Homo sapiens: one gene and its partner. The protein of the gene in region 2 interacts with the protein of the main gene of each other region in a pairwise test. Each region holds a gene or a part of one and is shown on either strand. Other genes may lie near its edges. The genes, in order: CCM2 and VSTM2L.

Region 1 (16,183 bases), on a different chromosome or scaffold from region 2:
CATGGGCACAGGGGACTTCGTTACATGATTTTTTTTCTTTACATTTGCTTTTGAAGTTTTCATAAAGGTGTTCCTGATCACTCTTACCAAAGCCTGCTCCCACCATCCATCCCCGGGCTCCACTTCCTGCTCTGCAGCCACAGGCTCACCGTACACATTTCAGTCTCCAGCATCTGTGTCTGACACCATTGGTGCTAATAAACAATAGTTTAATGGACAAGTGAATGCATGATGTGGAACACCTCCAGTGGCTTCAAGTGCATACAGAACCAACACCCAACTTCCCAGCCCAAGGACTTCCCAGGACTGGGGGGTCCTCTCCACCTCATCTCTGCTTCTGAACTGCAGGACACAGTCCCGGTCTCAACCTGGCTGGAAGTGGCTGCTGCCTGCCCCATGTCTCTTCTGACATCCTAGGTCTGCCTTTAGTCTCTAATTTTAGGTGTAAGTGACCTACTTTCCAAAGTGCAATGTCCCTAACCCTCTTCTCAGTGGGCTAAGCACATAATAGGCAAGGCATGACCAAGTTATCTCACTAAAAACTTGTATCGCCACCACGTAAACCAACAATAGAGGGTGATTTAAATGCTCAATAGTTAGGTTTATAGGACTTAATCATGACCATTTACTTACACTGCAAAGTGACAACAAGGAGGGGGCACTGCTGACGGAAATGAAAAAACTGGAAGATCAAGAGTAAGCGCCCCAGTGGGGCAGACTGCAGACGCCCTTCTCGTCTGCAGGGAAGCCCTTCACTGCAATAATATTGCTAAGAGAAACGTTTTGCTTTACACTATCTTCCTCTGAAAGGATGCTCAGAGCAGCCCTGGAAGGTTCTGATGTGCTTTCTGAATCTAAATTATGACAGAATCTGACAATATGTTGAAAATTAACAAATACATACTATGTAAATGGTAACTCTTCAAGACAGAAAAGTAACCAGCCTTATGTTGCCGATCATTCTGGCCTCACCTACTGGCTGCCTTAGGTTCTCTGCTGAGCACCTCCTGCCTGGTTCTCCAGCCTCCTGACCCTGAGTTACCAAGTTGCCATCCAAGAATCACTGCAATAGCTACCCAAGAGGAAAAATAAAACAAAATATAGCAGCCCCAATTCACCTTCTGAACCCAAGTATGGCTTGTGACAGTTATAGAATCGGTTTAGTGGGTCATGACCATGAGCCTTTTTTTTTTTTTTGAGACGGAGTCTTACTCTTGTCGCCCAGGCTGGAGCGCAATGGCACATTCTCAGCTCACTGCAACCTCCATCTCCCGAGTTCAAGCAATTCTCCTGCCTCAGCCTCACAAGTAGCTAGGATTACAGGCCCCACCACCACGCTCAGCTAATTTTTGTATTTTTAGTAGAGATGGGGTTTCACCATGGCTGGTCTCAGACTCCTGACAGGTGATCCACCCACCTCAGCCTCCCAAAGTGCTGGGATTACCAGTGTGAGCCACCGCACCTGGCCAACCACCAGTTGTAATAGAAAGAAAAAAAAATAGAATTAAAAAATCAGAGCGTTTAAGTGTGGTTCCTTTAAACTTTCACTTCGGTTATACAGACACACACATTTATGTCTGCATCAGGTCAGCATGGAGAAGGTATGGCTTCCTGGTGCCTGCAGTGACCAAATTTTAAAAGGTACTGGTCCAATCCAAGCTTTCAGTTCCTCACAGACACTGGTCCAGCAGTGACTACAGCAGCTGATAGTTCAGGGCCTGTAACCTAGAGGATCTTTTCCCCTCCACTTTTTATTATGGAAATTCTCAAAAATACATAAAAGTAGACAGAACAATATATAACCATTACCAAAGCATTCAGCTATCCCCTTTGTTTCTTCTATTTTGAGTAAAGCAAATCCCAGAAATCATATTATTTCACCTACAAATATCTCAGAATACATGCCTATCAGATCAGAACTTAATTATCATACCCAACAAAATTAATAATTCCTTATTTATTATTTAATATCTAGTCCTACATTTCTAGGGAACTTTATAACCTTTTTTTTCTCTTTTTCTTCTTGAGACAGGGTCTTGCTGTCACTCAGGTGGTGGCACAATCACACTCACTGCAGCCTCGACCTCCAGGGCTCAAGCGATCTTCCCTTCTCAGCATCCCAAGTAGCTGGAACTACAGGCATGCACCACCATGCTCAGCTAATTTTCTTATTTTTTGTAGAGATAGGGTCTCACTACATTGTCCAGGCTGATCTCAAACTCCTAGGCTCAAGTGATCCTCCCACCTCAGTCTCCCAAAGTGCTGGGATTACAGGCGTAGCCACTACACTCAACCTATAACCTTTTTCTACCTTAAACAATGCAAATAAACTAGATGAATGTAAAAATATTTAACTTTGATCAGTGTGAAATCATAGCCACCTGGTGGGGCAACCGAAGACCAGAGGCAGCAGAGAAGCTGAGACCCACAAGGTTAAGGCCACAAGATGGTTTTTTTTTTTTTTTGGAGATGGAGTCTTGCCCTGTTGCCCAGGCTGGAGTACAGTGGCATGATCTCAGCTCACTGCAACCTCCACCTCCCGGGTTCAAGAGATTCTCCTGCCTCAGCCTCCTAACTGGGATTATAGGCACATGCCACCACGCCCAGCTAATTTTGTATTTTTAGTAGAGACGGGGTTTCACCATGCTGGCCAGGCTGGTCTCAAACTCCTGGTGTCAAGTGATCCGCCTGCTTCGGCCTCCCAAAGTGTTAGGATTACCTACACCCAACCCTGACAAGACAGCTTTTTTGGGCTGTGATCTGAGTATAAAAATCCACACAACCCAACTTAAGTGCATCCAAGTTTCTAATAAAAAGGAATTACTGTCAGGTGCGGTGGCTCAGCCACCCAGCACCTTGGGAGGCCAAGGTGGGTGGATCACCTGAGATCCGGAGTTTGAGACTAGCCTGACCAACATGGAGAAACCCCGTCTCTACTAAAAATACAAAAATTAGCTGGGCATGATGGCACACGCCTGTAATCCCAGCTACTCGGGAGGCTGAGGCAAGAGAATCACCTGAACCCGGGAGGCGGAGGTTGCAGTGAGCTGAGATCGTGCCATTGCACTCCAGCCTGGGCAACAAGAGCGAAACTCTATCTCAAAAAAAAAGGAATTACATAGTGCCACAATGCACAGAACATGAGTCCATACCGTAGGTAGGAGCCTTATTCTCCAAACCCCAAAACAGAACTTGTAGGCTAAAAAGTAGACACTCTGTAGACATCAGGACAGAAGAGCAGCCCCAAGTGGTCACTTCTACTCCCCAGGCCCCACACCTTTAGTGGCCAGAGGACTTTTCTGTCAATGCACTCATTCCTTCAGATGGACCCATGAGTGATCCATCTCCCCATCAGCTCCTGGGGGCCACAAGCTCTTCCTGTATCCCCATCACCCAGTGAGTTTCATGGGACACAAGAGGGGCTCAACAGACATTTGTTAAACGAACCATGGCCCACTTGAGGAAACCCAGGTGTACAGTCATCATCACCACATGTGCTGAGGTGACTTGAGAAAGGGCAGTGATACACTGGGGCCAAGTTTCCGTGAGACTCACTTTGGTCCATAGGTTCTCTGCCAACTCACTGATTCCTGTGTCCTGAGGAAAATGGGCCGAGGTAAAAAAAAGCCTGAATCACTGCTTGGCAGACACCAAGACAAGTGTCTGAGATTAAAAAGAAAAAAAAAAAAAAGGCCCACCTGAGCTCAGGTGATCCTCCTGCCTCAGCCTCCCAAGTAGCTGAGACTATAGGCGAGCGCTGCCGCGCCTGGCTAATTTCTGTATTTTTTGTATAGATGGGGTTTTGCCATGTTGCCCAGGCTGGTCTCGAACTCCTGAGCTAAAGTGATCGAGCCTTGGCCTCCCAAAGTGCTGGATTACAGGCGTAGCTACCATACCCAGCCTAATTCTGCATTTTTTGAAGAAGCTAACTTAGAAGAATTTAAGCGTCCAAACTGTACCTTCATAAAACTATTGTCAGCACTTCTGCTACTTATGTCTGAATTTGTGTATAAGTTTAGAGCAATGCAATTTACCTTAATGAGAATGATTTAACCACCGAAGTTATTAAACTGGAGGTGATCTCACATTGAATGTGGTAGCTGAGCAGGAAGGTTCTGCCAGCTTGCAACTGGCAGAGTACACGAGGTAGTGTTAAGTCATGACCTGGAGAAGAATCCATGCCCCAAAGCTCCTTGTCTGGCTTGTCTACAGGAAACAAGCTAAGACAAGTGGCAGAATACAGAAAAAACACAAAACCCCTGGCTTAAGCAACTACATAACAACTGATTATCTCCTCTAGTGAGAAAATGAAATTAATAATTAACCTGTTTATGCCTAAATTTTTTCATTACCCAACTGGAAAATTCTTGATAATTTTACTGTTTTTTCACTTGTACCCCAAAAACAGTCTTACTGCTTCTCTCTCTCTCTCCCTATTTGCTGGGTGTTTCATGTTTCTACCAAAGCTGATAGACAGCTCTAGAAAAAAAAATCACTCAATTCCATCCTTGCCTATCACACACAGGTAGATGGGCCAGGTACTCCTGTAAGCGGTGCACAATGAGGTCATCAGTCCTTAGCGCGCTCTTGGATCCCGGCATTCCACAGAGCACATGGCTCACTTTCCGCAAAGCTCAGCATCATCCACACTCGGGCCTGATGGTCCCTACTAAGCAGCCACCGGGTTAGCACCTCTCCTTTCCAGCTAACTCCTTTTACACTGCTTGGCTCCTCCCTCTTCTGTGCGCAGCACGCATCTCTAATCTAACACCTGCAGGCTGAATCACTATCTTGAGCTATTTTCCAGACTTAAAACATCTTTGTAGATAACCGCAAATTATACTGCACCTAAATTAGACATGCATGGTGCTAACATGAAACAATGAGTTGAGAAAGTAGAGAACCAGCACCACAGGACTCCCTGAAGGCCACCTGGCTACATTCTATTTCAAACAGGACTTTTAAATGGGGCACTCTGTCAAACAAGGTGGTGAGTAGCTGTCAATTAAAGGACACTTCCCTGCAGAGTTCAGGGTAGTAAAATCATAGTTAGGAATTATCGAGGTCTGCTTTAAACTTGTGGATAAAAGTGCGCACACACACATCAAAAAGAAAATGATAGCCAAGACGTGAAGATTATAAAGCATTTATTTGAAAAAGATACATTTTATTAAAATCCATTTTCCACTTTAATGGTAGTTCAATCCACATCGTTTTTCCAGTCTTAAAATGTTTCTTTATCGACTACTATAACCCTTTACTGTAATTAAAGCCACATTTTGTAAAACTACATAAACTGGGGTTTGACTATGAACTATGTCCTAAATCCCACTGCCAAATGTAGCTAGCGTCACTAAAATCAATCAATGGTTTTAGGTCTGAGTGATAGTGGACGAGTGAGCTGGCCATAAGGTGAAGGCCACCCTTGCTTTTACTGGATATCCAAAAACGAAGTCCAGTGAGCAGCAAACGTCTCCACGTTAACCACACAGCCCACTAGCTCCAGTTCCAGCCCTGGACAGCTTTCTGGCCCCTCGCCGGGCCCACTTCCTCTGCAGCCCCAGGTCCCGACGCGCAGGGAAGGCCGTCTGGGGCCGAGGTCGGGGCGAGCCGCTGCCCGGGCCAGAGGAAAGGCGCGGCGCTTCCTGCCCGCCCGGCCGCGAAAGCCCACCTGACCATTGTCCGGGGTCTCGCCCTGCCCCGCCCCGCCCCGCCAGCTGGCCCACTGCCCCCCCCCCCGGGCCCCAAGGAACACCCGCCCACCCCACCCTGGCCCCTCAACCCAGCCGCCCGCCGACCACAGCAGTAGGACGCCCCCGCGCACGCTCACCTTCTTGCCCTTCTTGCCCTCCTCTTCCATATCGCCGCGTGCGGCTCCCGCGGCCCGCCCGGCCCGCCCCGGGAGCCCCGCCGCCAGCAGCCGCTACATGCTCGACCCGGGCCCGCCGCCCCCGCGCTCCCGGCGCCGCCCGCCAGCCGGGCCCGAAGTCTCCGCCCCGGCCGCGCCCCACACCCGCACTTCCGGGCCCGAGCCCCCTCCGCCCCGCCCAGGCCCCACCTTCCCCAGCGCAGGCCCCGCCCACGGTTGTCGCTCATCCTCACTTTCAGGCCCAAGGGAATCCGACCCGCAGCGATCAGACCCCGCCCCTTCAGGGAGAACACGGCCCGTTGGCCCCGCTCACGGCGAGAGCACCGCCCACAGGCTGAAGATCCTGCCCCTTCAGGACGGCCGAGAACGCGCCTGCCTTGCACCACCCCCACCCCGCCCCGCGTCCTTCAGGAGAGCCGGAAACGCTCCTACCCCTACTTCGCTTCTGCACGGCCGCGAGAACGCACCTGTCCAGCCCCCTGTTCGCTCCGCCCACTCAGCGCGCGCGGGAGCGCGCGCGGGAGCAGCTCCAACTTTTTCAATTTGCCGCCATCTTTACGGCGGCCGACTTCCCAGCCTGCCTCGCGTCCAGGGAGGCGGAGCTCAGGTCTCTGAAAAGGGGACGGGGGGCGGGGGACGGGGGACGGGGGCCGGCGGGAGGGGACGCGGCCGGCAGATGGCGAAGGAGGGGCGCGAGGAGGCGGCCACTGTTGAGGGGCGGGGCGTCCCGCCGAGAGTCTGGGTGCGGTGCGGTTTTCTTTTTTCTTGTGTCCCACTTTATTCCCTGAGCCACAGGGAATCCGTTTTCTAGTACTTCTCTGTTATAAAGTCTGCCTGCCTTAGACAAACACATTTGGAAAATAGAAGTGCAACCACAAGGATGTGCAGACCCTATCAGAATAAAATCGTAGAACCTTACCAGTCATCCGGTATAATTTCCACATTTTCCAGATGAGGTCCGGGGAATGAGGTGATTCGCCCAAAAGCACACTACAAATTGGAGTCACCAGCAGGTCTGCTATTTTGCCACTAAACCAATCTGCCGGTAAGAACTTTGTAGCACAGCTAGAATGTAAACTGTGTTTTTTTGGTGGTTTTTTTTTTTTTTTGAGACGGAGCCTTGCTCTGTCGCCCAGGCTGGAGTGCCAGTGGCGTGGATCTCGGCTCACTGCAAGCTCTGCCTCGCGGGTTCACGCCGTTCTCCTGCCTCAGCCTCCCGAGTAGCTGGGACTACAGGCGCCAGCCACCACACCTGGCTAATTTTTGTATTTTTAGTAGAGACGGGGTTTCACCATGGTCTGGATCTCCTGACCTGGTGATCCGCCCACCTCGGCCTCCCAAAGTGCTGGGATTACAGGCGTGAGCCACCGCGCCCGGCCTAATAATTCTTTATATTAAACTTTTCTTTACTGTGTTTCTGTCTCCTGACTGGGCCTATGTTATACTGATATTCAAAAGAAATACTTGGTCTCTAGACCTCTCCAAAGGCATAAGTATTCCATTCTCTGCAAGATAAAGCAGAGATAGTGGAAACACCCTTTCAATCTGCCTTCTGCAATAATCCAGCTTGCCACATTTACACACGCAAATGATGTAGCGCATCTGGTTGTCATTATTTTCCCACCATTCACAGAACAAAGGCCTGATATTTAAAGTCTTCCACCGTCTTCCACAAATGCATATTTATCACTCCATAATACAGTAAACAACACTACTAAAACTTCTCTTAGCCTAACTCTGGATGTGCTGACTTCCTCAGGCTGTTCTTATCCATCAGAATACCTTTGCCCTGTCTTTGCATACACAGGTTCATGCTTCAAGCAAAAGTCCACTGGCTAATGATCAGATGGTGATAACTGGGAATAAAGACAATAAAATGAGAAAAGCAAAAAGGCTGTTAGCTTGCTATAACAAGGGAGTCAGCCACCATCATTTGTATTTGGATGAGACTCAATGTCAGGCAGAGGAGTGGGTAAGCTTTATAGTGAAAAAAGGGAAGCCTCCAGGGATGTCCTCATTTGAGGCTGTTGGCCTGGGGAAGCAAGGGGCAGGGCATCCCAAGTGATTGGTTAGGGGCACATATTTGTCTTTCTCTGGTTGCTCCTAAGCTGGAAGCAGGACCGAAAACTAGGAAAGCTGCCAGTTTTTTTTTAATTGACAAATAATTTTTTGTTTCTTTTGTATTTTTAGAGATAAAGTCTCACTCTGTCCTTCAGGTTAGAGTGCAGTGATGCAGTCATGGCTCACTGAAGCTTCAACCTCCTGGGCTCAAGCAATCCTCCCATCTCAGCCTCCCAAGTAGCTGGGACTACAAGGACGCATCACCAAGCCTGGCTAATTTTAGTATATTTTTGTTGAGACAAGGTCACACTATGTTGCCCAGGCTGGTCTCAAACTCCTAGGCTCAAGCAATCCTCCCTCCTCAGCCTCCCAAAGTGCTGGGATTATAGGCATGAGCCATCGCACCCAGCTAACACATAATAATTGTACATATTTATGAGGTACATGTGATTTGTGTGTGTGTGTGAGGCAGAGTCTCACTCTGTCACCCAGGCTGGAGTGCAGTGGCATGATTTCAGCTCACTGCAACCTCTGCCTCCCAGGTTCAAGCAATTCTCCTGCCTCAGCTTCCCAAGTAGCTGGGATTACAGGCATGCACCACCACACCAGGCTAATTTTTTTTTTTTTTTTTTTTTTGAGACAGAGTCTTACTCTGTATTGCCCAGGCTGTAGTGCAGTGGTGCAATCTCAGCTCACTGCAACATCCACCCCCCAGTTTCAAGCGATTCTCCTGCCTCCGGAGTAGCTGGAATTACAGGTGCCCACTACCACGCCCGGCTAATTTCTGTATTTTTAGTAGAGACAGGGTTTCACCATGTTGCCCAGGCTGGTCTCGAACTCCTGGCCTCATGTGATCTGTCCACCTTAGCCTCCCAAAGTGCTGAGATTACAGGCATGAGCCACTGCACCCGGCCAAAATACATGTGATATTTTGATACATGCATATGATGTGTAATAATAAAATCAGGGTATTTAGGATATTCGTCACCTGAACACTTATTTCTTTGTGTTGGAGACATTTCAGATCTCTCCTAGCTATTCTGAAATATACAGTACATTGTTATTAACTATAGTCATCTTACTCTGCTATGGAACATTAGAATTTAGGCTGGGTGTGGTGGCTCAAACCCGTAATCCGAGCACTTGGAGAGGCTAAGCTGGGAAGATCACGTGAACCCAGGAATTGGAGACCAGCCTGGGCAATATAGTGAGATCCTTCTTCTACAAAAAATACAAAAATTAGCTGGGCATAGTGGTGTGCACCTGTGGTCCCAGCTACTCAGGGGCCTGAAGTGGGGTCCTTGAGCCCAGGAGGTCGAGGCTGCAGTGAGCTGTCATTGCACCACTGCACTCCAGCCTGGGCAACAAGCCAGATCTGTCTCACACACACACACACACACACACACACACACACACCCATGAGAAATTATTGCTTCTATTTAGCTGTATGTTTGTACACGCTAACCAACCTCTCTTCAGCCCCCTACTTTCCCCCAACACACACCCTTCCCAGCCTCTGGTGGCTATCATCCCAGTCTCTATCTCAATGAGATGAATATTTGTTTAGCTCCCACATATGAGTGAGTAAATGCAATACTTGTCTTTGTTTTTTTGTTTAAAAAAAAATTTACAGGGATGAGGTCACTATGTTGCCCAGGCTGGTCTCCAACTCCTAGGTTCAAGCCATCCTCCCACTTCAGCCTCCCAAGTATTGGGATTACAGGCTTACATAGTGACCTCTAGCTCTATTTATGTTGCTGCAAATGACATTTTCATTTTTTTTTCCTATGGCCAAATAGTATTCTATTGTGTATATATACTAATTTTTTTTGACATGAGGTCTCACTCTGTCACCCAGGCTGGAGTGCAGTGGTATGATCACTGCTCACTACAGCCTTGATCTCATAGACTCAAGAGATCCTCCCACCTCAGCCTCCCCAGTAGCTGGAACCACAGGTGTCTGCTATCACACCTGGCTAATTTTTTTACTTTTTGTAGAGATGAGGTCTCTATGTTGCCCAGGCTGCTCTCAAATTCCTGGGCTCAAGCAATCCTCGCGCCTCAGCCTCCCAAAGTGCTGGGATTATAGGCTTGAGTCACCACGCTCAACCTTATTTTTTGTCTTTTTTTTTTTTTTAGAGACAGGGCTTCCCTCTGTTACCCAGGCTGGAGTGCAGTGGCATGATCTTAGCTCACCGCAGCTTGAGCTAAGGAGCTGGGCTCCTGGGCTCAATGGATCCTCCCACCTCAGCCTCCTAAGTAGCTGGGACTGCAGGTGCGCCAACACCCTTATTTTTTGCCTTTTTGATAATAACCATTCTAAATGGGGTGAAATGGTATCTCATTGTGGTTTTGATTTGCATTTCCCTGATGACTCATGATATTGAGTATTTTTTTATATGTACCTATTTGTTTTTTGTACATCTTCTTTTGAGAAATGTCTACTCAGATTCTTCGCCCACTTTTTAATGGATTATTTGTGGTTTTTTGCTGTCAAGTTGTTTGAGTTCCTTGTATATTCTGGATATTAGTCCCTTGCCGCATGAATAGTTTGCAAATATTTTCTCCCATTCTAAAGGTTGTCTTTTCACTCAGTTGATTGTTTCCATTGCTGTGCAGAAGCTTTTTAGTTTCGCTTAATATAGTCCCATTTGTCTATTTTTGGTTTTGTTGCCTATGCTTTTGAAATTTTAGCCATAAAATCTTTGCCTCGTTCAATGTCTTGAAGCATTTCCCCTATGTTTTCTTCTAGTAGTTTTGTAGTTTCAGGTCTTATGTTTAAGTCTTTAATCCATTTTGAGTTGATTTTTGTATCTGGTGAGAGATAGGGTGCCAGTTATTAATTAAGTCCTAGGCTTTGGGGGCTGTTAGAAAAGTTACTCCTGGATTGTCACTAGAGATAACACCTGGCTTCCTGCAAGTATGACTTACAGCAGGCTTGTTTCCTGGGCTGGTTGCTGTAGATAACGAATTGGTTTCCTGAGGAGGTTTCTGCAGGTTGTCAGTCAGAGTTCTAGTTGTACAAATGGTCCAGCCATTGTCTATTTGTATATTCAGTCTCTCGTAACAGACACCAATGAGACAATTATAACATAAAACAATCTTTTCTTTCTCTCCAGGTCACACCTTGGCTGTAAAGTGTCCTAACAGCCACCTACTTATGATTACTGCTTTCTTACCAATAACCTCCCCAGCCTGTTGTGTGGCTCCTACATCTTGAACAAAAGCGACCAAGGTACCCAATTACTAAACTGCCCACACTTCATGAAAGCAACTTTATAGCCATGATACTCACTTCCCCTTGTCCCCTCTTCAGAATTACTCAGGGCCAGCCCAAACCTTACAAAGTCCCCTTCCTATTCCCTCGTAATGAGAAGCAGCCCTTCTTCCTCTGGGGTGCTCTCCCTGGTCATGGTAGGTTAATAAACCCAAATCTTTTTGCCCAACTGATTTTTGTATTTTAGTAGAGACGGGGTTTCACCATGTTGGCCAGGATGGTTTTGATCTCTTGACCTCGTGATCTGCCTGCTTCGGCCTCCCAGAGTGCTGGGGTTACAGGTGTGAGCCACCGCGCCTGGCTTAAACCCAAGTCTTTTAGACTGCTGGTGAATTTGGCTGTTGAGCTTTGTGACCCAGCTCAATAATCACATCTTCCACTAAATTTCTGGATGCAATTTTTCCCTCCTCCAGTTTCCAGATAACTGTATCTGTATGTCTGTGATGCTAGAGTTAACCAGGTTTAGGACATTTCCTCTACTAGAATAAGCTCCTTTGAAGGTACGGACTATGTGGGATTCCTCCTTGTATCTGAAATAAACTCTAATAAGGGAAATTATGTACACTGAGCCAGACTGAGGTGGAGGGGCACTGGCAACATTACCTGAACATAGTTTCTCATAGATGCTTCCCAGCTAGGCCCTGTTCAGGTAATGTTTCCCTGGTTTTAAGAAAACCCCTAAACACTGAAAATTTACACTTAATTGGCCTATTCAAAGACAGTGTTCCCAGATTTGCATTTTTGCTAGATTTCAGCCAATTTTTTTTTTTTTTTTGAGACAGGGTCTCACTCTGTCACCCAGGCTAGAATGCAGTGGAACCATCTCAACTCACTGCACCCTCAACCTCCCAGGCTCCAGCTATCCTCCCACCTCAGTCTCCCAAGTAGCTGGGACTACAGATGCACACCACCACACTGGCTAATTTTTGTATTTTTTGTAGAGACAGGGTTTCACCATGTTGCCCAGGCTGGTCTTGAACGCATGGACTCATGCAATCCATCTGTCTTGGCCTCCCAAAGTGCTGGGATTACAGGCATGAGCCACTGTGCCCAGCCTTCCAGCCAATTTTTTTTCTTTTTTGAGACAGAGTCTTGCTCTATTGCCCAGGCTGGAGTGCAGTGGCATGATCTTGGCTCACCGCAACCTCCACCTCCTGGGTTCAAGTGACTCCTGCCTCAGCCTCCCGAGTAGCTAGGATTACAGGCATGCACCACCACACCCAGCCAATTTTTGTATTTTTAGTAGAGACAGGGTTTCACCATCACCATGTTGGCCAGGTTGGTCTCAAACTCCTGACCTCAGGTGATCCAGCAGCCTCGGCCTCCCAGAGTGTCGGGATCACAGGTGTGAGCCACTGCAGCCAGCCAACCAGCCAATTTTTTTAAGTGAATCTTTTCACTGGTCTCGAAACTGACTGCAGTTGTTTTCTTATTGTGCCTCTCAGCCATCTGTCCTTGAGTCTATCAGTTGTCTCCCTCATATGAGAACTGGCTTGCAAATAACTAACTAGATGTCTCTGATTTCTGTTTGTTTGTTTTGAGACAGAGTCTCGCTCTGTGGCCCAGGCTGGAGTGCAGTAGCACAATCTTGGCTCACTGCAACCTCTGCCTCCTGGGTTCAAGCGATTCTTCTGCCTCAGCCTCCCGAGTAGCTGGGACTACAGGCGTGTGCCACCACGCCCTGCTAATTTTTGTATTTTTAGTAGAGACAGGGTTTCATCATATTGGCCTGGCTGGTCTCGAACTCCTGACCTCATTCATGATCCACCCGCCTTGGCATCCCAAAGTGTTGGGATTACAGGCATGAACCACCGCGCCTGGCCTTCTCTGAGTTATTCTTTGACGTATGACATGCAACACTTTGACTGTTGTGCACATGATAAAACCATATAGACTTCATTAGTGAAGGAAAGACACTTCAGAGTTGATTAGAGTGAACTATCAGTGAATTTTAATATCCAGTTTCCAGGCCTATAAATCATGAAGGACCAAATCAACTCTGGATCAGAATGACCCCTCAGAAATACAGCCACACTGTGTGGCCCCCAACGGAAGCAACCTTGCAAGTTCCATTTTGACATCTCATTAGCTAACACTGTTTATTCTTCTAGAGCCAAATTGCTAATTTTCTTTTCAGGCATACATCTGTAGGAGACCAGAATATGCCACCCCAAAATATGCCTCCTTGGCCTAAGGATTATTCTGAGCTAGTAATTTTGAGAAACAGAAGCTATGAAAACAGCATAAGCTACCCCTTTGAAAGAGAAATTCACCCCGGCCACCACCCCGTCTGGGAAGTGAGGAGCGTCTCTGCCCAGCCGCCCCGTCTGAGAAGTGAGGAGCCCCTCCGCCCGGCAGCCGCCCCGTCTGGGAAGTGAGGAGCCCCTCTGCCCGGCCGCCAGGCCGTCTGGGAGGTGTGCCCAACAGCTCATTGAGAACGGGCCATGATGACGATGGCGGTTTTGTCGAGTAGAAAGTGGGGAAATGTGGGGAAAGGAAGGAGAGATCAGATTGTTGCTGTGTCTGTGTGGAGAGAAGTAGACACAGGAGACTCCATTTTGTTATGTACTAAGAAAAATTCTTCTGCCTTGGGATGCTGTTAATCTATAACCTTACCCTCAGCCCCATGCTCTCTGAAACATGTGCTGTGTCCACTCAGGGTTAAATGGATTAAGGGCGGTGCAAGATGTGCTTTGTTAAACAGATGCTTGAAGGCAGCATGCTCGTTAAGAGTCATCACCACTCCCTAATCTCAAGTACCCAGGGACACAAACACCGGAAGGCCGCAGGGTCCTCTGCCTAGGAAAACCAGAGACCCTTGTTCACATGTTTATCTGCTGACCTTCCCTCCACTATTGTCCTATGACCCTGCCAAATCCCCCTCTCTGAGAAACACCCAAGAATGATCAATAAATACTAAAAAAAAAAAAAGAGAAACTCACAGTCTTAAAAGAAATCGCTCTTTGTAAGGGTGTCTCCCTCTCTGTACCAGGAAGAGAAAGTTGACTCTAAATCACCAGAGACCCTTATCAATGGAGAAGGCAGCAACTTGTTTTGTGTGCTTCTCCGGGTCTTTTTCCCAAAACTGGCCTTCCTCACTCCCTTCTTTGTTTTTAGCTGAAGATGGTACTTAAACCTGAATTCTAAGCCACTCCTTTGAGAATTACTCATTTTCTTGGGCATCTCACATGTATATGCAAAGTATACATGTTAATATAGCTCCATTTGTTTTTCTCCTGTTAATCTTTTGAGCTGGGCATGGTGGCTCCCGCCTATAATCCCAACATCTTGGGAGGCCAAGGCAAGAGGATTGCTTGAACCCAGGAGCTGGAGATCAGCCTGGGCAACATGACAGGAGCCCATCTCTACGAAATAAAAAATTAAAAAATTAGGGCCAGGCGCAGTGGCTGACACTTGTAATCCCAGCACTTTGGGAAGCCGAGGCAGGTGGATCACAAGGTCAGGAGTTCAAGACCAGCGTGGCCAAGATGGTGAAACCCCCGCCTCTACTAAAAATACAAAAATTAGCCAGGCATGGTGGCAAGCGCCTGTAATCCCAGCTACTCGGGTGGCTGAGGCAGGAGAATTGCTTGAACCCGGGTGGCAGAGGTTGCAGTGAGCCGAGATCATGCCACTGCACTCCAGCCTGGGTGACAGAGCAAGACTCTGTCTCAAAAATAAATAAATAAATAGCCAGGTGTTGTGGCAAGCTCCTGTAGTCCCAGTTACTTGGGAGGCTGAGATGGGAGGATCACTTGAGCCTGGGGGTGTGGAGGTTGCAGTGAGCCATGATAGCACCACTGTGCTCTAGCCTGGGAGACACAGTGAGACCCTGTCTCAAAAAAAAAAAATCTATCTTTTGTTACAAGGACTCTAGCTGAGAATTTAGAAGGGTAGCAAGAAAATTCATCTTTCCTCCCCTAAATATGCTACTGATAGAGGCGGGAGACAGCCAAATGCCATCCAGGTCATTATGCACAGGGGGCTTGCCTAAACATGCCTACAGTGAAAAATTCTATCCCTTAACACATGTGCAGTAAGGGAAATAAATCAGTGTGGAGTGGCTCAGATTAGAGGCCTACATGTGCACTGGGGAAATGGGGTGGAGCCACCAGGAATTCATGCTTTATGCAGGGGAGCCGGGCTTCTTCAGCTCCAGTATGGTGGCCTGATATTCAGTCTGTGGAGTAGGAGCCTGTTGGCAGGACCACCTCTTTGCTAAGGGCTTTCTTTTCACTTAATACATTCTGACCCTTCAATGTGTCCATGTGCCTAATTTTTCCTGATCGGGAGACAAGAGCCCAGATTTTAGCTGAACTAAGAAGAAAAATATCGTGCGTCACTAGTTGGCCTGGAAGAACAATGGAATTACTCATTTGAGATGTGGGTTTGAAGAAAGTTATTTTTAGTATTCTGATAAGCAGTTAAAATACTGCTGTCATGTTTCTCTCTTTGTGCCAGTCTCATGCAGTTTCCCAGCAAAATCACAATTAAACTGATAATGTGATTTTTATGTTTTGGCATCCTTTCAGATTTTGTTTTTTTTGTTTTGTTTTTGAGACGGGGTCTGGGTGTGTCACCCAAGCTGGAATGCATTGGCATAATCACAGCTCATTGCAGCCTCAACCTCTGGGGCTCAAGTGATCTTCCCACCACCTCAGCCTCCTGAGTAGCTGGGACTATCAGCGGACGCCACCATGACTGGCTAATTTTTAAACTTTTTGTAGAGACGGGTTTTGTGATGTTGCTCAAGCTGGTCTTGAACTCCTGGGCTAAAGCAATCCTCCTGTCTGAGCCTCCTGAAGTGCTGGGATTACAGGCCACGATGTCTGGCCTCTAATTACTTTGATAATAAGTAAGCATCTCCCCTTCTCTTTTTTTTCTGAGACAGAGTCTCACTCTATTGCCCAGGCTGGAGTGCAATGGCACAAACTTGGCTTTGCCTCCTGGGTTCAAGCAACCTCTGCCTCCCAGGT
Region 2 (16,503 bases):
GCCCAGAGAGGGGCAGGGACATGCCAAGTCACCCAGCAAGGCAGGCACAGGGTGGGGGAGAGGGGAGTATAGTAGACAAAAAACAGCATTACCCCAGCCCCTCTCCCCATCCTGGCACTTTAAGAGCTGAAGTGAAGTCACCGAGGAGCCACTGTCCCCCACGCCTCAACACAGGGGACAGAGAAGGCCCCATCCCTGCCATGACCCCTGGGTAGGGCCAGGGCATCCTCGGCGTTGGGGGCTCCACCCACCTGGGCCCTTGTGCCAGCACACACTAAATTGCCGTGTGACGGATCTTTATTAGCCGCCCGCTGTGTTCTGGCTGCTCTGCCTACTTCAACAGTCTTTGCTCCTTTGGGAAATAAGGCAGAAATCTCCTCACTAATATCCCCAGCTAATAACGGGTAGGGCTCAGCTTGCACACCTCCTGTGACAGGGAGCTCACTACTGGGTACCCTCCCTGCCCCACAGGTGAGTGTCCTTCTCTGTGTTTCTGTGTTTAATATCATCCCAGCTTTTTTTTTTTTTTTTTTTTTTTTGAGATGGAGTCTCACTAGGCTCACTGCTATCTCCGCCTCCTGGATTCAAGCAATTCTCTGCCTCAGCCTCCCGAGTAGCTGGGATTACAGGTGCCCGCCACCATGCCCGGCTAATTTTTGTATTTTTAGTAGAGATGGTGTTTCACCATCTTGGCCAGGGTGGTCTTGAACTCCTGACCTTGTGATCCACCCGCCTCGGCCTCCCAAAGTGCTGGGATTACAGGTGTGAGCCACTGCGCCCGGCCCCAGCTTCTTAAATCTTATCACAATACGTATATATTCTTCTTCTTCTTCTTCTTTTTCTTTTTTTTTTTTTTAAGAGACAGGGTCTCACTCTGTCACCCAGGCTGGAGTGCAGTGGTGCAATCACAGCTCACTGCAGCCTTGAACTCTTGGGCTCAAGTGATCTTCCCACCCCAGCCTCCCAAGTAGCTGGGACCACAGGCATGAGCCACTACACCTGGGTAATTCTGTATTTTTTTTGTTTGAGAGACAGGGTCCACTATGTTGTCCAGGCTGGTCTCAATCTCCTGGGTTCCAGTGACCCTCCAGCCCCAGCCTCCTGAGTCATTGGGATTACAGGTGTGAGCCACCGCACCCAGCTCTATACTTACATATTCTTTATGGGTTCAGTTTTCTGTCTCCCCTACTAGACTGAGAACTCTAAGAGAGCAAGAACCTTAGCTGTCTTCTTCACTGATAAGTTCCCAGTGGCTAAAAGAGCCTGGCACATGACAGGTGCCCAATTGATATTTGTTGAATGAATAAAAGAATGAATGAATGACCAAGCTTCCCAAACATGGCAGCAGCCTCATTAGGCCAGTAGCTCCCAGTATGAAGAGTATGGAGCATGCAGTGTGACAGGGCAGCCTGTTGGATGCCCCCGGGTCTCCAAGTCATGTCCACACTGTGGATCCCCACGGACATGCCCACGCACCGCCTGCGCTATTATGTCCTTAATGTTTTTCTATAAACTAACCCACCATTTTTTAATACCCCCATTAGTCTCATCCTAAGCAATCATATGTGTGAAATCACAGTTTTGATGTGCTAGTTATATTTTTTCAGTACACATTAAAATAAATGCTTAACTATTAAAATGTAAGAGGTTTCTCTAGGTTCTGCCTAAAATCATCTCTCCGGTAGGACCCAATCTTGTTGCGGGCCCTGGGGGGTTTTGAAGAGGGTTGAAACTGGGGGTGAAGTGGAGCTGAGTCCCAGGGACGCCCTGATGGCTTCAAGGAAGGGAAGGGAGGCCTGGCTGTGAGAAGGGAACCTGGAGGAGCAGCAGCCCCTCTCTGCCTCCCCACTGCCACCTCACTTCTCTGGAGCAGTGGGAACCAGGGGGAGCCAGCTGGGTGGGCTCTGGACCCCAGGACCAGCAGCTAGGAGAGGAGCAGATTTCTTCCCCAGCTGGACCACTGCTGCTTTTTCTGATGCAAGTGCCTCATCAGGGTCAGGGGAGAAGGGCGCGACCCTTGGACTCCCCCATCCTCATGGCTGCAGCATCACATATGCACCCCAAGGCCAGAGCCTGGGCCCACCCACTGCAAGGTGCCATCAGCCTTGCCCACTCCAGGATGTCCTTGCTCTGCTCAGCAGGGATAAGGAGGGGGCTCCAATTTTGTGATTTTTTCCCCCTATAAACATAGATTCCTTAAGAAATTAAAATCATTTGAATGTTTAAAAATATATTGACTTGGAATGAGCAAAGCTTTAAGAATTCAGACCTCATCCCCTGCTTCGTCCTCCTCGTCATCCATTCATTCATTCCCTGCCACCTCCCTGGGCCGGGCATTGTCCTGGGTCCCAGGACACAAGGGAATCTGACCCCAGTGTGCCCAGCGGGCCCCAAACTCCTTTCAGGACTGAGAGAGTCTTCCCACAACACCATCAGCAGCTGGTTTGGTCCCCAAAGTCCAAGGTGATGGCCAAACACTCTCACGTGGGCACCTGTGCCGCTGTTCACACTACACACTCTCCCCATGCTTTCGAAAATCGAGGGAAGTTGGAGGGTCGCTGGGATAGCATTCTGTTCCCACTGCTGCTCGCCCTCCTGGGTGTGGAATGCGGAGGCCATTGCACTCCTTCCACCCCAGAGCCAAGCCTCAAGTCCCAGCCCTGCTCTTCCCCTCTGTGTGACGTGGGCCTCTTCCTCCTCTTTCCTTGGACTCCCAGCCCTGAAGCCAGATTCTTCAGTTCAAGTCCAGCCTCTGACACTTGGTAGGTGTGTGACCTTGGGTAAGCCACTTAACCTCCCCGAGTCTCATTTTCTTCATCTAAACAGTGGGCCCGAAACAGTCTTTCCTCTTGGAGTTCTCGTTAGAATTGAATGAGATGATACCATTCAAGGCCCTGGCATGGCACTCAACACACACTTGCTTCCATATGTTTATCTCTCCTCTTTTTATTTTTATCTATTTATTTACTTTTGAGACAGGGTCTCACTTTGTCAACCAGGCTGGAGTGCAGTGGCACGATCTCAGCTCACTGCAACCTCCATCTCCTGGGCTCACGTGATCCTCCCGCCTCAGCCTACTGAGTAGCTGGGACTACAGGTGCGTACCCATGCCTGGCTATTTTTTTGTAGAGATGAGTTCTCACTGTGTTGTCCAGGCTGGTCTCAAACTCCTGGGCTCAAGTCATCCACCCACCTCAGCCTCCCAAAGTGCTGGGATTACAGGCATGAGCCGCCGTGCCCAGCCAATCTCTCCATTTGTACAGAGTTGGATGAGGTAATCCCAAAAGCCAAGAAGTACCCTCCAGGGCAATTCTGGGCAAATTCTCCCTTGCCCCTGGGTCTCTGTCTTCTCATCTGTAAGAGAGAGGCTTGGGACGATGGTCCCAAGGGGCCTCCATGATTCATTCCAAAAGCTCCATCTCCTGCCCCCACAGCCGGTGGATCAGAAGGGGTCACTTACCCGACTCCCCTCACCCTGCCCACTTGTTTGCCGCAGGCGACTTTGCCCACCATCCTTGCTGTCACCATGGCAAGGAGCCAAATTCCCTGCGTCCTGCTGGCCGCCTGCGGCTTCTCTTGTTTGGGGAAAAGGCTGCAGGAGCTGCTGATGGGCAAGGTGTCAAAACCAATTGGTGTGAAGGACTTGGGGAAAACCGCTTGTGAGGGCCAATTCCCCACAGGAGGCCGGGAAACCCTCAGCCCAAGGCAGAGTGTTTACAGGCGTAATTGATAGAATAATCACCAACGCCCGAGACAAAGACGAACACATTTTTAACATCATAACCTTTGGAAGACAGGACTCAATTTTCTTCATCTTCCAGCCACCAAACTAGCCAGCTTATTGATGGTGAGATACCAACAGTTCAGTAAGGAATGCGAGGAAGCCAGAGTCATTTTTCAGTGCACAGGCTGCTTGCCAAATGGCCCGGTGCCCCCTCCCTCCCCCAGCACCCTGCTGGTCCCTCCTGGCAACAGAGAGAATCTCAGGACAGTGAATCACTCAATGGACAAAGCCCCCGGCCAAGCCAGGATCTTTGTCTGCACTGGGGTATATGAATAATTGAAGGTGCTGGCCTAGGGGTGGGTGTGGGTGTGTGTGTGTGTAGGGGTGTGTGTGTGTGGCAGGGTGGGGGTGGGAGGGGAGTTGTCTGCTGCAGTGTGAGGCTTCTTGGAGCTCCTCTCAGGGACCATCCACCTGCCCCTGTCTGGACCTCTCCCTCCCCTGTGAAACCAAACCAAGCCAGTCCATAGCGTCAGACATTTCCTGTCCCTACATCTCCCACCAGGTATGGGTAAATACTTAGGCAGTGGCTTCCAAATCCCAGGCTGCATGAGAATCCTCTGGGGAACTTATTAAAATGCAGATTCCACTAGATGCGGTGGCTCATGCCTGTAATCCCAGCACTTTGGAAGGCCGAGGAGGGAGGATGGCTTGAGCCCAGGAGTTCAAGACCAGCCTAGGCAATATAATGAGCTCTCATCTCTACAAAAAATTTAAAAATTAGCTGAGGGTGGTAGCACATGCCTGTCACTCCCAGCTACTCGGAGGCTGAGGTAAAAGGATCATTTGAACCCAGGAGGCAGAGGTTGCAGTAAGCTGAGATTGTGCCACTGCACTCGAGCCTGGTCAATAGAGCAAGATCTTGTCTCAAGAGAAATTAAAAAATAATAATAAAATGTACATTCCAGGGTCCCATCAAATAACCATTCTGGCAGCGGGTTTGGGGGATCTGCATTGTAAAAAATTCCCTGGGGGACTCTGCCATGTGAGGCTTCTTGCAAGCTGTAGGGGTCCTCTGCAAGCTGTAGGGGTCTACAGAGATCTTCACAAAGACCCTGCCCTCTGGATCCCTCCCCTGGACAAGATCTGGAAAGATCCTGGGGTCCAGTCCAGCTGCCTGTTTCTAACCTACAGGTATCCTCAGCAAGATCTTGCCACCTTTCTGAGTGGCTGGTTCCTCTTGGTGGAACCCACTGCTTTACTGGTTCCCTGAGGAGCTAGAAGGGAGAAAGCTTGGGTTACGGCTACAAGAAGGAAGACGCCATGGCCAAGCCTGCCTCAAGGCTGTTCTGGAGGAGGCAGTCCCAGAGCTGCCAGATGCATCTTCATCTTAAACACAGCTTTCCAGCTCTCTGTACAGACTCAGCACCCTTGGGTAAGTCACTGGCCCTCTCTGAGCCTCAGTTTCCTCCTATCTCCAACACCAACCTTGCATGAATGGTCAGCCTGAGTGAGTTAACACTGGCAAGGGCTTGGCAGCACGGGGCACACAGTAGGCATTTCATCAATGCTTGCACCTTTTCCTCCCATCCCTGCTGTGCCCATGGGCAATGAGTTAACATTTTCTGATAAGAAAAAATCAAAATCACTCCTGTTTATTGAGCACCTACTAGGTGCAGACACGGACCATCACCACCCCACCTCCCAGTGCCTGATGCCTCCTTGAGATACATGCTCCCCATTCATTCCTCACACCTCGAAAAAGCCCTCTTCCAAGTACCTTGAGTGGAGGTGGGAGGGAGATGGGAAGCAAAACAGATGTCCTTTCTGACCCATCTGACCGCAGGCTTTCCCTGTGACAAGCTCCAGGGCAGGCAGGTGGAAGGCAGGAGCCCGGCGGCCGGGCTGGGCTCAGATGGAGTTGGAGGGGTGAGCAGCCACCAAGCACTTGGGGTCAATGTGCCCCTCCCCAGGAGCCCCTGCTTCCAGCCCCCACCCCCCACCCCCAGACACAGAGACACCTTCCCGACTGGGCCACATTTCCTGAATCAGCTGAGGACACACGGAGCCCAGGAATAATGAAATGATCAGGCCCCAATCTGCTAAACAGCAATTTCTGAGCTTTTTCAGCACACACAGCTTTTATCAAATTGGTATTCTCCTCCTGAACACAAATAGCTTATTAGACATGACCCACTTATTCGCCGCGTCTCACTATCATTAATAACAGTTTCTTTTTGTGATTAAGTGAGTGGCTCCAAACCCTTCCTGTGGTGGCGGGTGCTTGGCACGGCAGAGGGGCAGCTGTGGGGGCTCCTCGGCAGTCACTACTTGGTGACTTTGAACCTGGCAATGTCGGGGGAAGGCAGCCTGGCCCCTGCAGAGCAGCCTGGCTTCTTTGTTTCTTTAGGGACACAGGGAGACCCAGAGGGGTGGCTCACTTGCCCAGAGCCACACGGGGGTTTCAGGAGAGAAGCCAGGTTCCCCAGCAACTAGGGGTGCCTCCTTCTCATCTAGCCCCTGTCCTGGGCCTTAGCTTGACCTTCCAGGGTGCAGAGGGGAGATTACAGCTGGTTGGGCAGAGCTGTGCCCCCTCAGCTTACCTGGCACCAGGGGACAGGTAGAGACTGTCACACAAAGGGCAGACAGACCCTGCTTTTCTATGGGGGGGAGCCACCTTGGGGCCTTGGGAATAACAGACTGGCACCCAAGTCCCTGGGGTCTGGTGCTCTAGGGACAGAACGACCATAAGCCTCAGAGTCCCATTCCTCATACCCCTCGGGACTGCAAACTCAGGGAAGGCCCTCCATGGAAACCCCTCCTAGTGTAAGTTCCAACTGTGCCAAGGGACTGAGCGGAGCGAGGAGAGGAGGGGTGGAGAGGGAGGAATTCCCAGTTTCCCTAGAATGGGAGGGAATCTGACAGGGAGATGAATGTCCTGGAAAAAAGCGCTGTCTTTGCCTGACAGACCCTGGGGCCTGTCCTGGCTCAGTCACTCTCTTACTGTGTGACCTTGGGCAACTTCCTTCACCTCTCTGAGCCTTGGTTTCCCTATCTGTAAGTTGAGGATCAAAAGAACCCTTTCCTTATTTACCACCGCTCTAGCCAGGTCGGTAGAAATGAGGTGAGGGGCATGAAGGGTATGTAAATGATGCACACAGCAGTTACTACCAAACATGGTGAGGCAGAAGGGGGCGGGGAGTCATGGTTCCCAAAAAGCAGAGACCCTGAGGATGGCTTCGAAGCCCCCCTCTCCACTGGAGCAATCCCACTCATGTGTCATACCCCAGCAAAACCTTCCCTGATTATCTACCCTGCCTTACCCCCACTCACTCCCATCAGAATAAATCATCCAATTATCTGGCCTTTGTGCAAACCTCCCCACAGCCCTGGGCCCACAGTGCCCAGCACTGGGGCTGCAGCCTCCCCAACAAGGCTGTCAGCCTGTCTAGTGAAGGGCTGCATGGAAGAAAGGTCTCCTTTGGTTTCATCTATGCTCGAGCCTCCATCCCAGAGCCAGGCTCACAGGGGTCAGGGGGAGCCCCCACAGCTGCCGGGCTCATACAGTCCAACTCTGCTGCCAACTTGGGCTCCTTCGGGGCTAGCAGGAGCTTCTGACACTCAGCCAGCCAGTGCTGGGAATGCTTGTCTGCTCCCCGGCTTCCACAGCGGCTGGAGTTGAGATTTCCCACATTTCAGTCCTCTAGGGCCGAGGATGAGGATGGGGGTACCCTATGGAAGGATGGCACGGCTTCCTGCCCATCCCCAGAGGCAGACAAAAGCACCCGGCATTCCACTTCCACTCCCACTCCCATGCCTCTGGCTGCAAGCAGCAACCCCAACTACTCCGGTGGCTCTGAGGGGCTTCCACCAGGTGCCACCCGCCCAACTGGGAGGCTGCAGCCCCAGGCGACCAGTTCTCAAGAAACAAGGTCTTCTGCCCCCAAGGACCTTTCCAGTGGTATAGGGCTGGGTGTGGAGAGGAAGAGGACAAGGGCCTCTGTGCGGTTAAACCCAGAAGAGTAAAGGCAGATGGGCAGAGAGGAGTGGGTGAGCAAATTGTGTTCATGTGTGTGTATGTGTGTGCCTGTGTGTGTGTGCGCGCGCGCGCACCAGTGTGTCTGCAGGTGGGCAGGCAAGAGTTGTGGCGAAGCGTGTGCGCCAGCTGGCAGAGTGAGCCCACCGGCGCAGTGCCTGATGTGCGTGTGTAGTGGGCATAAGTGTAAAGGCTTGCAGTGAGGAGGGGGACCTGAGGTGTGTGGAGATGTGCAGGGTAGGAGTTGTGAGTGTGAGAAAGCAGCGACTGTGGCTCTGAGTGTGTCCGCGGCTGTGCATATCGGTGTGGCCATGCAGGTGTGCGTATCCGCGCGAGTGTGTGGGGAGGAGGTTCGGGGGTGCGCCCCGGGTGCCCCCTTCTCTGCAGGGCCAGGGTGCCAGGGCGGGTCCACCGCGCCGGCAGGGGGCGCCCCGGGATGCCCGCCACGACTGGCGCCGGTTCGAGCCCCGGGGCGGCCAAGTTGGAGTGGCGCGGCCCGGGTTGGGGTTTGGTGGGGAAGTCCGCGGGGGCGGCGACCGAACTCACCGTGGCCGGAGACGTGGTTGTCCCAGGGCGCGTGGCCGGCGGGCCGCGTGGCGCCGCCGAGTTGCAGGAAAAGTGCCAGGTAGTGGAGGGCGCCCAGCGCTACGGCGAGCGGGGCCCCCATCGTGCGCTCTCGGGCCGGGGGCGCCGCCGCCTCACATCTGGGCCCCGGAGACCGCAGAACCGGCGCCAGCTGTCCCCTGCCCTGAGCGGCCTGGCTGCCCGGCTCCGGCAGCTGCCCCTCGCCCGCTGTCCCCGGACCCGGCCCAGCTCCCAGCCCTCGCCCGGCTCCGGCCCAGCCCCGGCTTCGGGGAGCGAGCGCACGCCCAGCCGGCCGCCTCCGACTGCGGGACTCTTCCCTTCCGCGGAAGGCCACGCCGCGCCGCCGCCGCACCCTCCTCCCTCCTCCCGCCTCCCTCCTCCCCTCCCTCCTCCCCTCCCTCCTCCCGCTCGGAGCAGGCGGCGGAGGGATCTGCCGCTTGATTTATCATCAAAGTTTTGCCCAGGCTGGGATTTTTAAAGCGGTACCCGCAACTTTCCCCCGCCCGAGTGCGGAGGCGGGGCCGGGATGGGGCGGAGAGAGCCACCCCAGGGACGCGGTTCCCGCAAAGCACGACCCAACGGGCTTCAGCCACAGAAATGCCGTCCAGCGGGGAGAGGGAGAAAAGCCAGGGCACCCGCCGCCAGGCCAGCGCACTCAGAGGCTCCTAACTTTACCGGCAGGGCGGGGCCGGGGTCAGGGGCCAGTGGGGCTGGGGGTGAGGGCGAGGTAGGGTGGGAGCCTGGGCTGAGACCCAGGGGACCTGGTGATAGCTCTGCCGCCGACCTCGGCTCGCTGTGTGATCGCGTCCGGGTGTCTACCCCTCTCTGAACCTCGAAGTCTTCATCTGAGAAATAGGGGTAATAGCTGTCTGCGGGGGTCCTGGTGAGGATTTGCGAAATCGTGCATGCAAAGCGCTTAGCATAATGCTGCCTACGTGGTAGGAGCTCAGTAGTTATTATTGTCGGTGTTCCCCTTTCTGGGACTCAGTTTTCGAGTCTTTGTAATGGGAGAGAGACAGGCCAGTTAGTTGTTGCGGCTCCTGGCTCTTGAAGATACTGGACCTTATGTGGTGGATGGGATCGCCCCCTTCTGGACTGTAGGCTCCTTCCCTAGACCAATGAGCCTTGATGGTGTGTGTGTGCATGAGTGTGTGTGTGCGTGTGCGTGTGCGCGCGCGTATGCGTGGGTGTATGTGTGTGTGAGTGTGGCAGGGGAGGGGGATAGGGCACCATTCCCATTCCCAAGAGCAAGAATCCAACAAAGTCCTCCAGTTCCTTCCCAAGCCGTGTTACTGGGGCTGATGGGACAGACAGGAGGGCGGAACTGTGGTCCCATTTAAAAGATAAGGAAGCGCCTGAAATCAGGTAATTAGCTTCTCTGAGGTCCCACGGCGAGTCGGGCGAGGCCCCTGACTCCTGGGCGGGGTCCCTCCTGCTCTCATCCCTTGCCCTTCCCCAGGCCTCCCTGCTCACACAGCCTGGTCCTCCCGGTTTCAGCACCACGGAGGAGGACAGCGCCAGCCCCCCCCCCGCCCCCCGCCCCCCGCCCCACCCGGGCCCATCCTTTGGGCACCGTGGACAGCGTCTCAACTGGCCCTTTGATGCTAGGGTTCACACCGTGGACAGACCCTCAGACTTTCTTCCCCGTCCCCGTCGAACAGGGTCAACCCCTCCGACAGCCCACTCCCCACTCCAGAACACAGGTGGATCCCGCGTCCAGCCGTGTGTACAGCGCCCAAGTTTGAGAACAAGGTTAGAGACCAAGGAACATAGCCCCTCGCCGTCTTCCCTCTGTCTTAGCGCCCCCCTTCCAGTATTATGGGGGGGGGGTAGCACACCGGATGGGGCCCGTGGTAGCCAGCAACAATCCAGCTCCTTCCAAACTAAGGACACCTCCTCCACGATGTCCCGCACTTACAAGCACTGTGTTCTAGCACCGTCCACAGCCCCCGCGCTCCCTTCAGTACCGAGGACAGGTCCCAAGCGTCGACCGCTTCCCCCACCCCCCGAACCTTCTGGACCACATGCCTTGGAGGAAGGGGCCGTGTTTGCCTGATTCTCTCACTTCTCACTTTCTTCCCACACAGAGGTGGTGTTTAGGTTATCCTGGGCTGGCCAGGCGTCTTGGACTCTATGCACGTGTTTTCTCATTCATTAACTACCCTGAACCCCGCTCCCAGCGAAATGAACTACTGCTTCCATCATAAAGATATGGAAACTGAGAATCCTCCAGATCACATAGCAGCCACCATGTTAGCCAGACTAAAACCCAGGACTCCTTCAACCCCAGCCTGAGGCCTCACCAGGAGACTGTGGTGACAGAACTGGGACTCAAACCCGGGCTTTCTCCTCTTAAACCACAGATTGGAGGGAGCAGACACAGGCAAGGGGACAGGGAGGGAGAGGAGATTAAAGAGGAGTAAACAAGAGATTGCTCAGGCCTGCAGAGGAAGGGGGTCTGGCGGGATGGCAGCACATTGCTGCTGTGCCCCTAGCCCACCGGCTGACCTTCAGAAATCTTTTCTCTTTGAAGCCTGGAACAAGGTCAAGGTTCCTTCAAGGACAGACATCCAGGGATTGTATGCCTTTGAAAATGCTCGTGATCGGCCAGGTGTGGTGGCTCACGCCTGTAATGCCAGCACTTTGAGAGGCCGAGGTGGGCATATCACGAGGTCAGGAGTTCGAGACCAGCCTGACCAACATGGTGAAATCCCATCTCTACTAAAAATACAAAAATTAGCCAGGAGTGGTGGTGGGCACCTGTAATCCCAGCTACTCAGGAGGCTGAGGCAGGAGAATCGCTTGAACCTGGGAGGCGGAGTTTTCAGTGAGCCAAGATCACACCATTGTACTCCAGCCTGGGTGACAGAGTGAGACTTCATCTCAAAAAAAAAAGGAAAAAAGAAGAAAATGCTCATGATATAATGGTTCTGCTAAAAAAACCCTCTGATGGCCTGTTTATGTGAGAAATCCTGACTTCTCTAGTTTGCATTCAGGGTCCCAGACTCACCTCCTGCACATATCCTGTGCTCTCTTGGGCATGCCTTGGCCTCATTACATCTTCAACCTTCCCAGTGCTTCCCCTGTGCTTGTATGCCTTCCCCTCTGTCTAGCTGAGTCCCCAGTTGGGCGAGGTCCAGCCTGAGTCCCCATGGGAAGAAATGCCTGCTGCCTTCTCCCAGTCCCCAAGCCTCTGTTGGCTCATCACTGTATGCCCAGCATGGCCCTAAGAACTTTCATTATTCCCCTTAATCCTCAGAACCACCAGGCCAGGTAGGGTAGGATGGTGTGGTTAGAAGTGTGGGCTCTAGAGCCATATTCTCTGTTTTGAATCCTGCCATTTGGTAGCTGTGTAAACTTAGACAAGTTGCTTAGCCTCCCTGTGCCTCAATTTTCTCGTCTGTAAAACAAGGGTAATAATACCTCCTTCACAGCAGGGTGGTGGGGATTAAATGAGTTGTTACATGGAAAGCACTTAGAACAATGCCAGGCACATGGCAAATACATGATACATGTTGACTAGTGTTCTTGATATCTACAGATGAGGACATAGGTTCAGAAAGGTTAGGTATTTTGCCTAAAGCGACATAGCAAGGCCATGATGTGTTTGATTCCAGAGCCAATCAAACATTTCATATGTTTGATTCCAACCTACCCTCTTGGCACCTTAAGAAACTAAGACCCAGAGAAAGTAATTCACTTTCTCAGAGCCACACAGCCACTCATGACAGAACTGGATCCAGGTCCTTTGTCTCCCAACTCAGAGACCTCCCACTATACTGTACTGTCCCACTTGTATTTCCTGCAGCACCTAAACTACACTTTACAGTTTACAAATCACATTCACACCCATGATCTCCTATAATTCATACAACAACCCCTGAGGCTGCTATTATACCCTTCCTTCTTTTACAGATGGAGAAACAAAGCTCAGAAAGATGATGTAACCTGCACAAAGTTGCACAGTGAGGTAGGGCAGAGGCTGAATGTGAACGGACACATCCCAGCCCATCCTCCTCCCCTGTGTAATTGTGCCTCTTGTCTGCTTCCCAATGCAAGTGTAATCTCTGGGCACCGTGGAAGCCGAGAGCCTAGTGGAGGCAGAAGGTAAGCAAAGACTAGCCCAGGAAACAGTCTCTAGGAATTCACTAGAGTGGGTGACGCCTGTCACTCATTTCATTCTGGGAATGCTGCAGGAGATGGAAAGCCTCCCATCCCTGGAGGCAACTAACATGCCTCTAGTGGTCGTGTGGATGCCATGAGGCAAATATCACTGCTATTTCCATTATATAAATGAGGCTCAGAGGTGAGCATCACGTCAAGTATTTCAATTGGGAAAGATGATATTTTTAAACTTCCCTCTAAGCATGGGATCTTGCACTGCCCCTTACTGCTGAGCCAAGCTCCCTGGAGAGTCTCCATACCCTCCCCTTGACTCAGACAGGCCACCCTCCCTCCCCTCCTTGAGAGGTGTCACTTGAGCACTGTGGCTCTGTCAGTGGTAACAGCTGTAAGATTTGTCCTTTTAATCCAGAATCAATAACAAATTTCATTTAAAAATAAATTAAACCAGGCATTGGAAATCATTCACCACGTGGGCTGGAGCCCTATATAGCACCATCTAAATGGCTTCCTTTTGCTCATCTATCAATGCCAAGAGTGGGGGAAATACCTAGGCTGCCTGATTCATGGAGAAACTACTTAAATGTATCAGCCCCTAACAATGAGCAATGTAAGCCTGGAGTTGCACCTTTTAGCACACCAATAACATGTGGAGTGAGGCTTCATGAGAGCTTATCAGAGCCCCCATGGTCACTGGCTTTGAGAGAGCCCATTTATAAGGGGGAACAATGGCTTTAGTATGTAGCCGCCTAATTTCCAGAATGCATTACTGAGCTCTGAGGAGCAATGGAATTCTATTAAAGTCTTATCTGCCATGGGAGGGTATGAAACCGGTGCGGAACTCCAGGCTTGGCATAGACATGCCCAGAAAGCAGCAGGGCTGACCCTAGGAGGTGGGTGAACAAGCCCAGAGGGAGAGGGGGGAGCAGGAGGGGCCCCGGATGTGTGAAAATATGTGTGTTAATAAGAGCTCCGGTTTCCAGCGATTACGTTTACATCAGTGAATAAAACTTGGCAATAAAACATCGGAGCTGCGTCTCAGACAGCATTTCCTTTTACAGCCTGGTGTATTTCACTCATTATAACAGGAGGCAGGGAGCGCGAGGTGTCCCCATTTCTCCCCCTTTAATTAAATTTTCTAAATTACTGCCCAAGATTTGGATAAAGCGAAAGACTTACAGCTCCCCTAATCGCCATCGAGGCTCCCGCCCCACCACTGTGGTGGCCCTGACTGTACCGGTTTCCAATATTATTAAAGTGAAATACTGTGGGCATTGCCTGCCTGGGCTCTGGTTTTTAAAAAGAGATGCAGCATCAGGAAGAAATTGGCCCACGGTCAGGAAAGAGGCCTGGGTTTCAGGACGGGCTTTGCCATCACCACCTTGTGTGACCTTGGGCAAGTTATTTCTCTTATCTGAGACTCATGACTTCTCCTTTTCCCCAGATGTTCATCTTGAGGCTCTTAGAATTGATCTGGAGCTGGGGCAGTCCTTGGACCCACACTGGGACGACTGGGGAGCTTTAAGAATATATGGGTGCCCAGGGCACACCCCAGAGATTCTGACATAATTGGTCTTAGGTGAGATCTGGGTATCAGGGTTTAAAAAAAATTCCCCAGGTGATCACAGTCCACAGCTAGGATTGAACACCATTGGCCTAAACACAGAGTTATTAGATATTACTGGACTTGAGACTCTCTGGAGAGGCTGGCTGTGGCCAGGCCCCACCCCTGGGTGTTCTCTTTCAGACTGGCTTTTCGGGGTGGGTATCTGGGAATCTGCCTGCTCACTAAGCACCCCAGGTGTGTCTCGTGCAGGGATCCAGTGGGCTGCAGTGAGGATTCCAACAGAGGTGGGAGGACAAGGGTTCCTTGAATTGAGCCCAGCCAGCCTCGTGGAATGAGGAGGCCCCTCTGCCCCAGTTCCCCTCTGGAGGGCAGCACAGGGAGCCGATATGTGACCTCCCACTCCGGTCTGGGGTACTTCTCTCCTCTGATGACTGATTTCTTTATCTGTTCCACTCACCGCTGGCAGGAGCCTTGACTGGCCTCCACAGTCACATCATGTTCCCATCATAGGAACCCCAGGTCTGGCCCCTCTGCCCATGTGGTTCACGATCGCCGCAGACCCAGGTTTTCCACATGGACGGACTCCGAGCCTTTATCTGCACTCTGCCTCCCGCAGGGCTCCTAGGCCTCCTAGGAAGGCCTTGTCTAGGCTGAGAGCCATGCTTGGGCCAAGGGCTAGGAGCCAGGGACAGCAGGGGGGCCTGGGCACAGGAAATTCATTCATTCTGGCTCCTGCCTTTGCCAGAAGTCCTAGGGAGTGTCCCTGACATTTTTCTTCTGGATTCCGGTCTAAGTGGACCACACAGAGTGAAGACATAATCTAAAACCTAAAACTTAAATTTAAAGCATCTTTTTAATTTATTTATTTAAGACAGGGTCTCACTCTACTGCCCGGGCTGGAGTAAAGTGGCAGGCACTATCACAGTTCACTACAGCCTCAAACTCCTGGGCTCAAGCAATTCTCCCGCCTCAGCCCCCGAGTAGCTGGGACTACAGGCATGCACCACCACACCCAGATAATTTTAAAAATATTTTGTAGAGATAGGAGTCTAACCATATTGCCCAGGCTGGTCTTCAACTCCTGGCCTCAAGCGATCCTCCCACTGTGGCGAATGGAATTACAGACGAGAACCACCATGCCCAGCCAGCATCTCTAATTTTTAACGGAGAAGGCCATCAAAGATCAATCCTCATGTCCCTTTTGTGCAGACAGAGGAACTGAGGTCTAGAAAGACATGGAGAGAAGCCTAGGATCTCACAGTGAGGGAATGGCAGAACGAGGCCAAAGACCCAGGTCTCCTGACTCTAGGCCGGGGTCCTTCTTCCACATGCCACTTGCCTGAGGAGGTCAGACAGGATCCATCATCACCTGTGCAGCCAAGCAGCTCCTCAAAAAACATCCAGCTCTGTGGCTTCCCAAAGAGGGAACTTCTCCGAGGCCCAAAGAACCTTTTGTCCTAGTCTGCTCAGGCTGCTGTAACAAAACACTGCAGACTGGTTAAGCAGAAATTAGCAGAAATCTATTTCTCACTGTTCTGGAGGCTGGAAAGTCCAAAATGAAGGTGCCAGCAAGATAGGTTTCACTCTGAGGCCTCTTCTCCTGGCTTGGGGGTGACTGCTGTCTGGCTGTGTGCTCACAAGACCTCTTCTTTGTATGTGCAGAGGAAGAGGGTGGGAGAGGGAAGAGGAAGGGAGAAAGGGAGTTCTCTGGTGTCTCTTCTCATTATTTATTTATTTATTATTTATTTATGTATTTTGAGACAGAGTCTCACTCTATTCAGACAAGGCTGGAGTGCAGTAGTGTGATCTCAGCTCACTGCAACCTCTGCCTCTCAGGTTCAGGCGATTCTCCTGCCTCAGCCTCCTGTGTAGCTGGGATTACAGGCACCTGCCACCACACTCAGCTAATTTTTGTATTTTTAGTAGAGACGGGGTTTCACCATGTTGGCCAGGCTGGTCTTGAACTCCTGACCTCAAATGATCTGCCTGCCTTGGCCTCCCAAAGTGCTGAGATTACAGGCTTGAGCCACTGTGCCCAGCCTAATATCTATTGTCTCTTTTATAAGGACACTAATCCTATCAGATCAGAGCTCCACCCTTCCTACTTCATTTAACCTTATTTACTTCCTTACCCCAAATACCGTACAGCCACATTGGGAGTTAGGGCTTCCACATATGAATCTGGGGGACACATTCAGCCCATAGTATCCCTCCAGGCTTTGGCCCTCAGATTTGAACCTAAACCCACAAATTGCACTCTACCAAGGCCAGTAAGTACATGTGGCTCGTATCTGTGTTGTCCCAGCAAGAAGCCTAATGACAATCCCCATCAAAGGCAATTAATTGCATCAGGGAGGGGTTCCTAGGGCCCTTCACCCTGCAAACCAAGTGCTTATTAAACACCGCGGGACAGCAGGGTCTCTGCCAATTACAAGGCCCTGCTTGTAGGAGTGTTTTTAAAATCCTGAACTG

Evidence for each region.
Region 1: the proteins of VSTM2L (region 2) and CCM2 interact in binary tests that used the Homo sapiens proteins (3 or more experiments, as listed by UniProt).

What each region holds. Positions count from the first base shown.
Region 1 is NC_000007.14:44,990,011-45,006,193, reverse strand, and holds the start of CCM2 (cerebral cavernous malformations 2 protein), read right to left. Parts: upstream 5,994-16,183; 5' UTR 5,861-5,993; coding exon 5,831-5,860; intron 1-5,830. UniProt on the Homo sapiens protein: Component of the CCM signaling pathway which is a crucial regulator of heart and vessel formation and integrity. May act through the stabilization of endothelial cell junctions. May function as a scaffold protein for MAP2K3-MAP3K3 signaling.
Region 2 is NC_000020.11:37,895,272-37,911,774, reverse strand, and holds the start of VSTM2L (V-set and transmembrane domain-containing protein 2-like protein precursor), read right to left. Parts: upstream 8,649-16,503; 5' UTR 8,425-8,648; coding exon 8,304-8,424; intron 5,157-8,303; exon of another isoform or gene 4,614-5,156; intron 1-4,613.